Linked DNA regions of Homo sapiens. The protein of the gene in region 2 purifies or fractionates together with the protein of the main gene of each other region. This does not show direct contact. Each region holds a gene or a part of one and is shown on either strand. Other genes may lie near its edges. The genes, in order: PALM2AKAP2, SYDE2 and MPRIP.

The links.
Region 1: the proteins of SYDE2 (region 2) and PALM2AKAP2 purify together in Homo sapiens (affinity purification with mass spectrometry; one large-scale study listed by BioGRID and IntAct). This does not show direct contact.
Region 3: the proteins of SYDE2 (region 2) and MPRIP purify together in Homo sapiens (affinity purification with mass spectrometry; one large-scale study listed by BioGRID and IntAct). This does not show direct contact.

The regions. Positions count from the first base shown.
Region 1 is NC_000009.12:110,168,064-110,170,630, reverse strand, and holds part of PALM2AKAP2 (PALM2-AKAP2 protein isoform 3 (PALM2-AKAP2)), read right to left. Parts: intron 2,233-2,567; coding exon 2,134-2,232; 3' UTR 1-2,133. UniProt on the Homo sapiens protein: Binds to regulatory subunit (RII) of protein kinase A. May be involved in establishing polarity in signaling systems or in integrating PKA-RII isoforms with downstream effectors to capture, amplify and focus diffuse, trans-cellular signals carried by cAMP.
Region 2 is NC_000001.11:85,191,017-85,194,676, forward strand, and holds part of SYDE2 (rho GTPase-activating protein SYDE2), read right to left. Parts: intron 1-3,660.
Region 3 is NC_000017.11:17,045,452-17,049,111, reverse strand, and holds part of MPRIP (myosin phosphatase Rho-interacting protein), read right to left. Parts: intron 1-3,660. UniProt on the Homo sapiens protein: Targets myosin phosphatase to the actin cytoskeleton. Required for the regulation of the actin cytoskeleton by RhoA and ROCK1.

The DNA.
Region 1 (2,567 bases), on a different chromosome or scaffold from region 2:
GAGAATTCATTCAAAATATTCAGGAGACTCAACCATATAAAGATGGTGCCAATTGCCCATGTGCTATTTGGGCTGCCATCTGTAGGATGTGGCTTCAAGTTAGAGCTCCCTTGGCAGTTTTAAAGGATCCTTGTTAGTAGATGGTTCCATTTTTTACTTTGTGCCTACTTCTCATTTGTGAATAAATGTCCCCCCCCAAAGTCAACACTAGTCTAATAAAAGAAGCAAAGGAAATGTGCGTTAACATCTACATACAAATTTTGTGAAATTGCTACTTGTTAGAATAACATAATAGAGCTTATGACATAACAATATAAAAACAAAAATGATTTTTAGTGAGGTCTGAGTTAATTATTGCTTTTTTAAAAAACCACAGTTTTAAAACAAAGGAAAAAAAAAGAAGGCTGTTTATTTTTTTTTCTTTCTCATGGCCAGAATTGAAAATTTTCTCATCCAGAAATTTAGGGCACCCAATTATTGAATACCCTTATCATATTGCTTTAAATGACAGAAAGATTAAAGCTGGCATCCTCTATAGTATACTAAGCATGAATGTAAAGTATGAGAATAAATAGGAGACTCTCCTAAATGTCAAATTACAAAACCGCTCAAAACTTTGTAATTGTGACTCATGCAAATACCTTGTTAGGTCAACTTAATATTACAAATACTGCATCAGCTCGGTGCCTTTATATCCCTTTTCATAAAAAAGAAATTCTCACTCCACTCCTGAAGCCAGCAAACAGCTCTGGAGGAATTACCTGTACACCCAAGTGCCACGGTCACTCTGGAATTTTAATACACACACACACACACCCTTACTCATGAACATACACATTTTACAAACACACAATGGTGTACACACACACACACACACATCCACACACACCCCATCTTTAGGATTTGTAGCTGATTCCAAGCCTGCACTTATTTCTATTCTATATTTTTCTTTGTATCATCCTGAAACACACTGGTTGCTCAGCAAAAATAGTATCTCTTACCTCCTTATTTTATTCCCATTCTTTCTCCTTCCCTCCCTTTTTCTCTCTCTACCTTCCTGACTTTTCTTTCGTGTTTCCTTTCTGATTGATCCAAAAGGAATCCATCATTCTTCTTCCTATCTCTAAGGCCCACTTTATAATACAAAATAGTTATAAACACCTTTTTATTTCTTATCATCTACCTCTCCAAGGCAGAGTTCGCCTTTTTTTTCAATTATTGCCGCTCTAAAAATGCCCCCACCATCTTGAACCAAGTTGTTCAACGCGTACAGATTCTATACGTGTATATACTCCCCCATCCCATCATAAAAATAGTTGTTGCCCACTAAATATAGTTTTCCTATGAAGAAACATAACTGTGAAAATGTGTTCTCATAAACTGCAGATCAGTGAATATTATAAGCAGACACGATCCTAAAGCTAACATCATCCATTTGGTTTGTTTTTCTCTTCCCCTTTCTCAGCCTCCTCATGTAGAATAGATTGTGTTTGTGACATGAAGAACTATTGTCTTAAAATATGGATTTTATGAATTGTGATCATGAGTTGTTCTCAATTAAAAATAATTAAATGTAGGAGAAGTGGAATCATAACTGCCTCTTCTGGGCAAATATGGAGAGAAACGCCATTCATTTTATGGCTGCTGGAGAAAATGGAGTTAATGCAACACCCTCTGATGCTGCAAGTGACAGGTGGGAAACTGGTGCAGGGAAATATCCTGTGCCATGTAGGCTGCACCAGCCTGGGCCCTACTGCTCTCTAAGTGGCCCTACCACCATTGTCCTTCATCGCCCAGAGAGGCTGGTCTCAGTTCCGCCTGCAGCAACTATGTTGATTTGCTTGTAACATGTTTTGTCCTTTTGGATCCATTGTAGATTGGCCCCAAACCAGACACTGGGATTGAGTCACCAAAAAAGTCCTTTCTCTTTTGATTCCTGGGTGTCCAGAGTCTGATGGGGGGACTTCCTTTTCGTTTCATTTTCATCATTGTATATTGCAGCTTCTGGTCTACATAAGGATTGCTGAGTTTGTTTGCACTTTAATAAATAGTCCATTAAAATGCTTTCAGTTGTTAATTTCTTGGTTTCTTGGTCTCCCAAGCACCAAAGACGCTTCCTGGGTTGAAGGAAGTTTATTCGTTGTCTTCTTCCTCCTGGTTGGCATAGATCCCTGCTTCCCAGCGCAAAGCCAGTGCGCTCTTTCTTCGATTAACCCGTGTGGCCTCGAGGACCTGTAAAGAGAGGGGAAAAAATTATGCAGAGTTCATGGATGTTAATTATGAACATAAACCGACTTCTCTGTTTCTTTCTTCCTTTCTCTTTATCAACTTGAGAGGAGAAAGTGATAAAGCACTGCTGGGAGATAGGAGAGACGCTGGAAAAAGGGGAATGGGAGGTTCTGGTTATGCATTCATCTCACAGCCAGTATTCATCTGCTACTTGACCCCTAGTTTTCACCATAGAGAAATTTAATTTTCATGAAATGTTCTGCAAGTTTCTTTGAACTAGCCGTGATTCTGCATCAAGTTTTCAGATAAAGCAGATCCCTACACGCAGCAGATCAGTG
Region 2 (3,660 bases):
AGTGCTAACAAAGCCTTACCCTAAGCAAAACATACCTTATAAAAAGTTTATCTAGAATGCTTTATTCATAGTATACCTCTAATCAATATTTGAATAAGTTTCAATTCATTATTACAAGGACCAGAAGTCCTTAGAAATATAATATTCCTCCTACCCTTTTCACACAAAGATTAACTTTCAAACCTAACAAGAAACTATGCCTTACTAATATTAAAATGTCAACATAACATTGGCTTCCTATCCACATAACACAATGGCACCTTATGTAGGGTTTAAGTTCTAAATATCTAGGGCAGAACTAAAAACAAAAATCCCTTCAGAAGGCCCCAGATTAGAAGCAGGTATGCTGTCTCACAGTATGCACTACACAGCTATTATTTTTTTTGGCCAGGCACAAACTTAAGCAGCAGAGAAATAAGAATGAACAAAACAATCCCTTCCCTTAAGAAATTCATAGTCCAGGCCCTGCGCAGTGGCTAATGCCTGTAATCCCAGCACTTTGGGAGGCCGAGGCAGGAGGATCACGAGGTCAGGAGTTTGAGACCAGCCTGGCCAACATAGTGAAACCCCGTCTCTATTAAAAATACAAAAATTAGCCGGGCATGGTGGCACGTGCCTGCAGTCCCAGCTATTCAGGAGGCTGAGGCAGGTGAATAGCTTGAACCCAGGAGGTGGAGGTTGTGGTGAGCCGAGATCGTGCCACTGCACTCCAGCCTGGGTAACAGAGCGAGATTCCGTCTCAAAAAAAAAAAAAAAAAATTAATAGTCCAATGGGAGACCTCAAATGCTTAGATATATGCACATCTTAATATAAGTAAGACTCTACAAATGTATACATAACATTAATTTCATCTAAAGAGGAAAATATTTTGTGTTTCCAGAGTTGTAAAGCAGGCTTCAATGACAGTCCATAAGCTAAGTATATAACTATCATTATAATAAAAATTCACCGTACATAATTAAAACCACATTTTAAAAATCTAAGATCATCTCAGGTTTCTAAATTATGGAATTATATGGTCAACTCATCTTATTGGCACAGCAAGTAAAAAATAATGGTCTAAAAATAGAGTGATAAAACACACTAAGCCACAAGGAGCTTAAAACAACCAAAAAATCAGATTTATGCAGAATCAAGGTTTTCAGTAACCTCCCTTCTACTGAAAAGAAAATCCTTTAAAAAATCCAAATGTCCAGCCTGGGCAACATGGCAAGACCCTATCTCTACAAAAAATTTAAAAATTAGCCAGGTGTGGTGGCACACACCTGTCATCCTAGCTACTTTGTAGGCTAAGCTGGGAAGATTGCCTGAGCCCAGGAATGTGAGGCTGCAGTGAGCTATGATTGTGCCACTGCACTCTAGCCTGGGCAACAGAGTGAGACCCTGTCTCTTAAAAATAAATGAATAAATATATTTTTCCTTTTACAAAATCCTAAACATGTACCCAACCAAGCAGATTAATAATAAATAAATAAATAAACAAACCTTAAACACAAATTGCAAGTCACATTCAATTCCAGATGCAGGAATTAGACTAGAAATCAGAAGGCAAGGAAGCTCCCATGAATACCTACTATGCCAGGCATTTATTTACTCCACAAATGAGTGACTATTATGTGGCAGGCATGAGAGATAAAGAAGTAAGGAGGCCCCCAACCTCATTTAACCTCTAGAACAATCCTATGAAACAGGTATGATTACCATCATGAGCCTCAAAGAGTTTGAGAAATATGGTCAAGTCGCTAGCCCTAGGATTCAAATTTAAGCCTGTCTAACCTTAAAACCCATGCTCTACTCACCATGCTACCCACAAACCACACGATGCTACCCATACCATGCTACTCACAAACAGTACAGAAGTAGGCAACCCTTTCTGAACATGGGGATATTCATCCCAATTTATCTTATAAATTAAAGTGGCTGCTGGTAAGAACTAAGTGAAATAATGTTCAAAATACTTGAAAAACTATTAAGTTCTACTCAAAAACGCCAAGTAACTTGTTCAAGAGTACCTTGTTGGTAAATGGAAAAGGCAGCACTCAAACTTATTCTGACTCCAAAGTTTGTGGTGATATATCTAGGCTACTATAAGGGAAATTCAAAAGTCTTTCTCTGGTTCTATCTCCATTACACTTAAAATTAACAACTGAAAATTAAAACATACTCAGCAATCACTGGGGTTTCTGGGTTTTCAGTGATCACATGATTTTGCCAGGTGCACTGAAGTCTAAATCTATTTCACATTTAAGTTCAAATCCAGTATTACTTAACAGTATTTCAGACCTTCACAGGATATTATAGTTTGACCCAATTTAAATTTGAAGCAAACAGTATAAAATTACATTACTCATGATGGCTATGAGCCACATCTTATTTTATCTTTTTCTCAGACATCTCTTAGAAATTCCAAATTTTTATATAGCTAGACACATTCATTATTTTAAATCTTTTTGGAGTTTTCTGACATACACTATAAATGAGTCTTTGAACATGTTTCTACTACATTGCAAGGAACTACAGTGAGAAAAATAAAGCTACCAGTATCCCATATTTAAGCAAGTTGATACTTCCATTGATATAATCATTTAATGAAAGTATAATATTAAAAGGAATTTTTTTTTACTAGATAGGGTCTCACTCTTGTCACCCAGGCTGGAGCACAGTGGCACCATTATGGCTCACGGCAACCTCAACCTCCCAGGCGCAAGTGATCCTCCCGCCTCAGTCTCCCAAGAAGCTAGGACTACAGGCTTGCACCACCACACCTGGCTAATTTCTTTTTTTTCTTTTGGTAGAGACAGGGTCTCACTATGTTGCCTAGGCTGGTCTGGAACTCCCAGGCTTAAGTGATCTTCCTGTTTCCCCCTCCCAAAGTGCTGGAATTACGGTGTGAGCCACCATGTCTAGCCACTATTTTCAATGAAATTACAAACTACAAAAGCTTGAATCCATTCACTCTGATTGCTATTGCCGAATATTTTAAAATACATGATGCTGAACTTTAAACTTATAGATAAATGGCACATTATTATAATTTATATTGTGTATTATAAATATATAATATTACAAAGGCCAAATTTATTTATTAAACTGAATTAATCAACACATTATTCAAGATAATAAACTTGAGCAATTATTTATAATTAAAACATTTTTATCTCACTTAAATTAAATGGATCCACATGAATGTAAATTCATAGATATGGAAAGCTATTTGCAATCTGCCCTCCCATTTAATGCAACAATGTTTAACCATATTAGCATAAATTTAAGAGTTTTAGCTTCATATATATGAAATATGTTATTCATAAATTATAAATATTTTTGTAGAGAAAGGGTCTCATTGTTGCCTATATATTGCCTATAAATTATAAATTTTTTTGTAGAGACAGGGTCTCACTGTTGCCTATATATTAAATTATATATTATATATAAAAATACATACAATATATAATAAAATATATTTCATATATAATATAAAAATATGTTATATATACACACACACATATTGAAAGAAGGTCCAACTAAAAATATAAAAATAAGTATGCAAAGTTACAAGGCAAAAAAAGTCCTTAGTCTCTTGCAACTATACATGTTATGGGATAATTTTCAGATTCTAATTAAAGTAATTTTACTTTGAATCTGTAAGAGAAGAAAGA
Region 3 (3,660 bases), on a different chromosome or scaffold from region 2:
AATGGAATCACACAGTATGTGACACATGACCTTTCATGTCTGCCTCTTAGCGCAATGTTTTCTAGGTTCGTCCATGTTGTGGCATGTCTCAGTACTTCGCTCCTTCTTAGAACTGAATGATATTCCATGGTATGGATACACTATGATTTGCTTATCTACGCATTAGTGGATGGACACTTGGATTGTTGCTGCCGTTTGGCTATTGTGAGTAGTGCTGTTATGAACATTTGTATACAAGTATCTGTTTGAATACACCTGTCCTCAATTCTTCTTGGCATATACCTAGAAGTGGGAATGCTGGCTCACGTGGTAGGTTTTATGCTGAACTTTTTGAGAAACCCCCAAACTGTTTCCACAGCAGCTACACCATTTCATTCCCACCAGCAACGTGCAAGAGTTATAACTTCTTCACATCCTCGCCAACATGTTATATTCTTATTTTTTTAATTCTAGCCATCCTGACAGGTATGAAGTGATATCTCACTGTGGTTTCAATTTGGGTTTCGCTGATGACAACGCTGAGCATTTGTCATGGTGCTTGGCCGTCTGAAATGGGATTTTGTGTGTCTGAGATTTTTGACACGCTCCCTGCCAAGCAACACACCAACTCCTGTTACAGATCTTCTACAAGGGGGGGATGCGAAATCTCCCCGTTGTTTCTGAGATACACATTAAGTCAAATCAGGAAGTCCTATGCCTTAGAACTTCTACGAATGTCTACAGGAACAAAGGGAAACCTGATGAAATGCTTCCCTGAGACCTCGTCCTGGCCCACACCCTCTATGTCTGAAATTCCCACCTGAGGCCCCCGCAGCTTTGGAGCCTTGGCAGTGGGGTATGGGCACAGCAAGGGCAGAATCACACCAGGAAGACTAAGAACCCTGGGAGAGATCAAGACCGAGCTCATTTCCAGATGGGAAAACAGGCCTGAGCAATGAAAATGACCCAGCCAAGGTCCCACAAAAAAACAGGGCTAGACAAAGAAGTAGAAACAGGCTTGCAGGCTCCTTCCACAGAGGCAATGCCTGAAGTTACACAGTCAGCAGGAGAAAGAGACATCACCCCCAGATCAACACGCGGATGTAGAAGCTGAGCACCCTGGGTTCCAGACCTGCTTCTCCCACTAATGCCCACCCCTCTGATTCACCTCCCAGCCTCTGCACCTGCTCCCCTTTTGCCTGCCCACTACATGGGGGCTTCCTAGGCTGGTTCCTCTCCTTTCACTCTATGCAGCCTCCTGAGTGCTCACACTCACTCCCATGATTTCAGCAACCACCTCCACATCCAAGACTTAAGAATTCCAACCCAGCCTCCCTCTACGTCCATAAGGGTCAAACTTACCATATTATTTTTTACCCCTCCCCATCCCCCAAGTTTACTCCAAATCTGTTCTTCTCAATCTCTGTTAAAGGTACTTCTAACTACCCCAGGTTCCTCAACACCCACCTCTGATCAACCAACAACATCCTGTCCCTAGAGTCTGATTCCTTCCATCCTCACCAGCACTGATCTGGAGAGAATGCCTTGATTGTAATTTACCCAGTTTAATAGCCTCCAGTAGATCTTCTGCCTTTAACCAGAATTATTTTCCTAAAAAACAAGTCTGATAGATTAAAAAGCTAAGTATAAAAATAGCTATAAAAGAATATGAGAAATTATTTTACAAATCTTGGAAAGTAGGCCTTAAACATGACATTAAAACTACAAACTATTAAAAAAAAAGACCAACTGCATTTATATTATGAAAAAGAAAAATAACCACACAAAAAAGACAAGTGGCATTCTGGGAAAAAATACCTGCAATACGTGGCAAGCATCGGATTAATATCTAGTTCAGGGTCAGCAAACTATGGCTCACAGGCCACACATCATGCCAGCTGCCTGTTTTTGTAAATAAAGTTTTTTAAATTTATTATTATTATTACTTTTTTGAGAAGGAGTCTCACTTTGTTGCCCAGGCTGCAGTGCTGTGGCACGATCTTGGCTCAATGCAACCTCTGCCTCCTGGGTTCAAGCAATTCTCGTGCCTCAGCCTCCCAAGGAGTAGCTGGGATTACAGGCATGTGCCACCACACCCAGCTAGTTTTTGTATTTTTAGTAGAGACAGAGTTTCACCATGTTGGCCAGGCTGGTCTTGAACTCCTGACCTCAGATCATCCACCCACCTCAGCCTCCCTAAGTGCTGGGATTACAGGCATGAGCCACTGCGCCCTGCCGGTAAATAAAGTTTTACTGGAACACAGTAACTCATTCGAACTCATTCGTTAATGTGTTGTCTACGGCTGCCTTTGTGATGAGACGGCAAAGTCTGCACAGTTGTGACAGAGACCATATAGCCCACAGACACTAAATTATATTTACTATTTGGCCTTTTACCAAAAAAGTTTGCAGACCCCTGACCTAAAGCACTTATAGAAAGCTCCTACAAATCAACTGGGGGAAAAACTAACCTTACAGAAAAATGGGCAAGCAATACGAACAGGCAATCCACAAAAGAAACAAAAATACTCAGTAAATACTATAAAAAAGGCTCAACTTCATGAGTAATTAGGAAAATTATTAGAGAATTAAATCATTTGATAATATCCAGTCCTGGAAATGTTATCACACAGCCTTTTTTGGAAGGCAATTTCGTGGTATCTGAAAAAAAAAATTTATGCGCTTGATGTCAACCCAGCCATTCTATTTATAGGTATCTGCCCCCAGAGAAATACTTGCATTCATGCATGCACGCACACACACCCAGAAGTATTTATAAGACTCTTTGCCGAAACATTCACTGTATGTAACAGCAAAACCCATAAGCAACCTTGATGTCTATCAATAAGGAAACGGGTTAAATTATAGTACACTCCTAAAGGCCTAATATGCAAAATGGTTCTGGCATCTTTATATGCAACACCATGAAAAGAACGTAAAGATATGCTGATAAGCAGAAAACAAAAAATATGTCGCAGAGCAAATACATGCACACAGTTCAGGATAAAAAGGTTTAACTGTATATTTGAGCTGGGCACAGTGACTCACGCCTGTAATCCCGGCACTTTGGGAGGCCGAGGCAGGCGGATCACGAGGTCAGGAGATCAAGACCATCCTGGCTAACACAGTGAAACCTCGTCTCTACTAAAAATACAAAAAATTAGCCAGGCATGGTGGCGGGTGCCTGTAGTCCCAGCTACTCGGGAGGCTGAGGCAGAAGAATGGCATGAACCTGGGAGGCGTAGCTTGCAGTGAGCTCAGATCGCGCCACTGCACACCAGCCTGGGCAACAGAGCGAGACTCCGCCTCAAAAAAAAAAAAAAAACTGTATATTTGGGTCCGTATGTCGCTGAGAAATGCACAGGAAAACTGGAGGATAAATGACACTCTGTGAACAGGGGCCTGGAACAAGTAATAAAGGACGGTCACTTATCACTTATCCCAGATTACTCCAAATTTCCGTGAGGAGGAAAAGGCAAAGAACTCCACTGCTCCAAGCCAGCATTCTCAAGGCACCTCCTGCAACATAACTATCCCTGACATTATTGTCCTCATCATGTGCTCATGGTGTGGCCACTGTAGACCCTGAACAGGAGTAGGGGAACTAACATTGGCTTCAGAATCCTGGCTCCATCCCTGAACTGGGCAAGTCACTTCCCTTCTCTGGGTTTCAATCTTCTC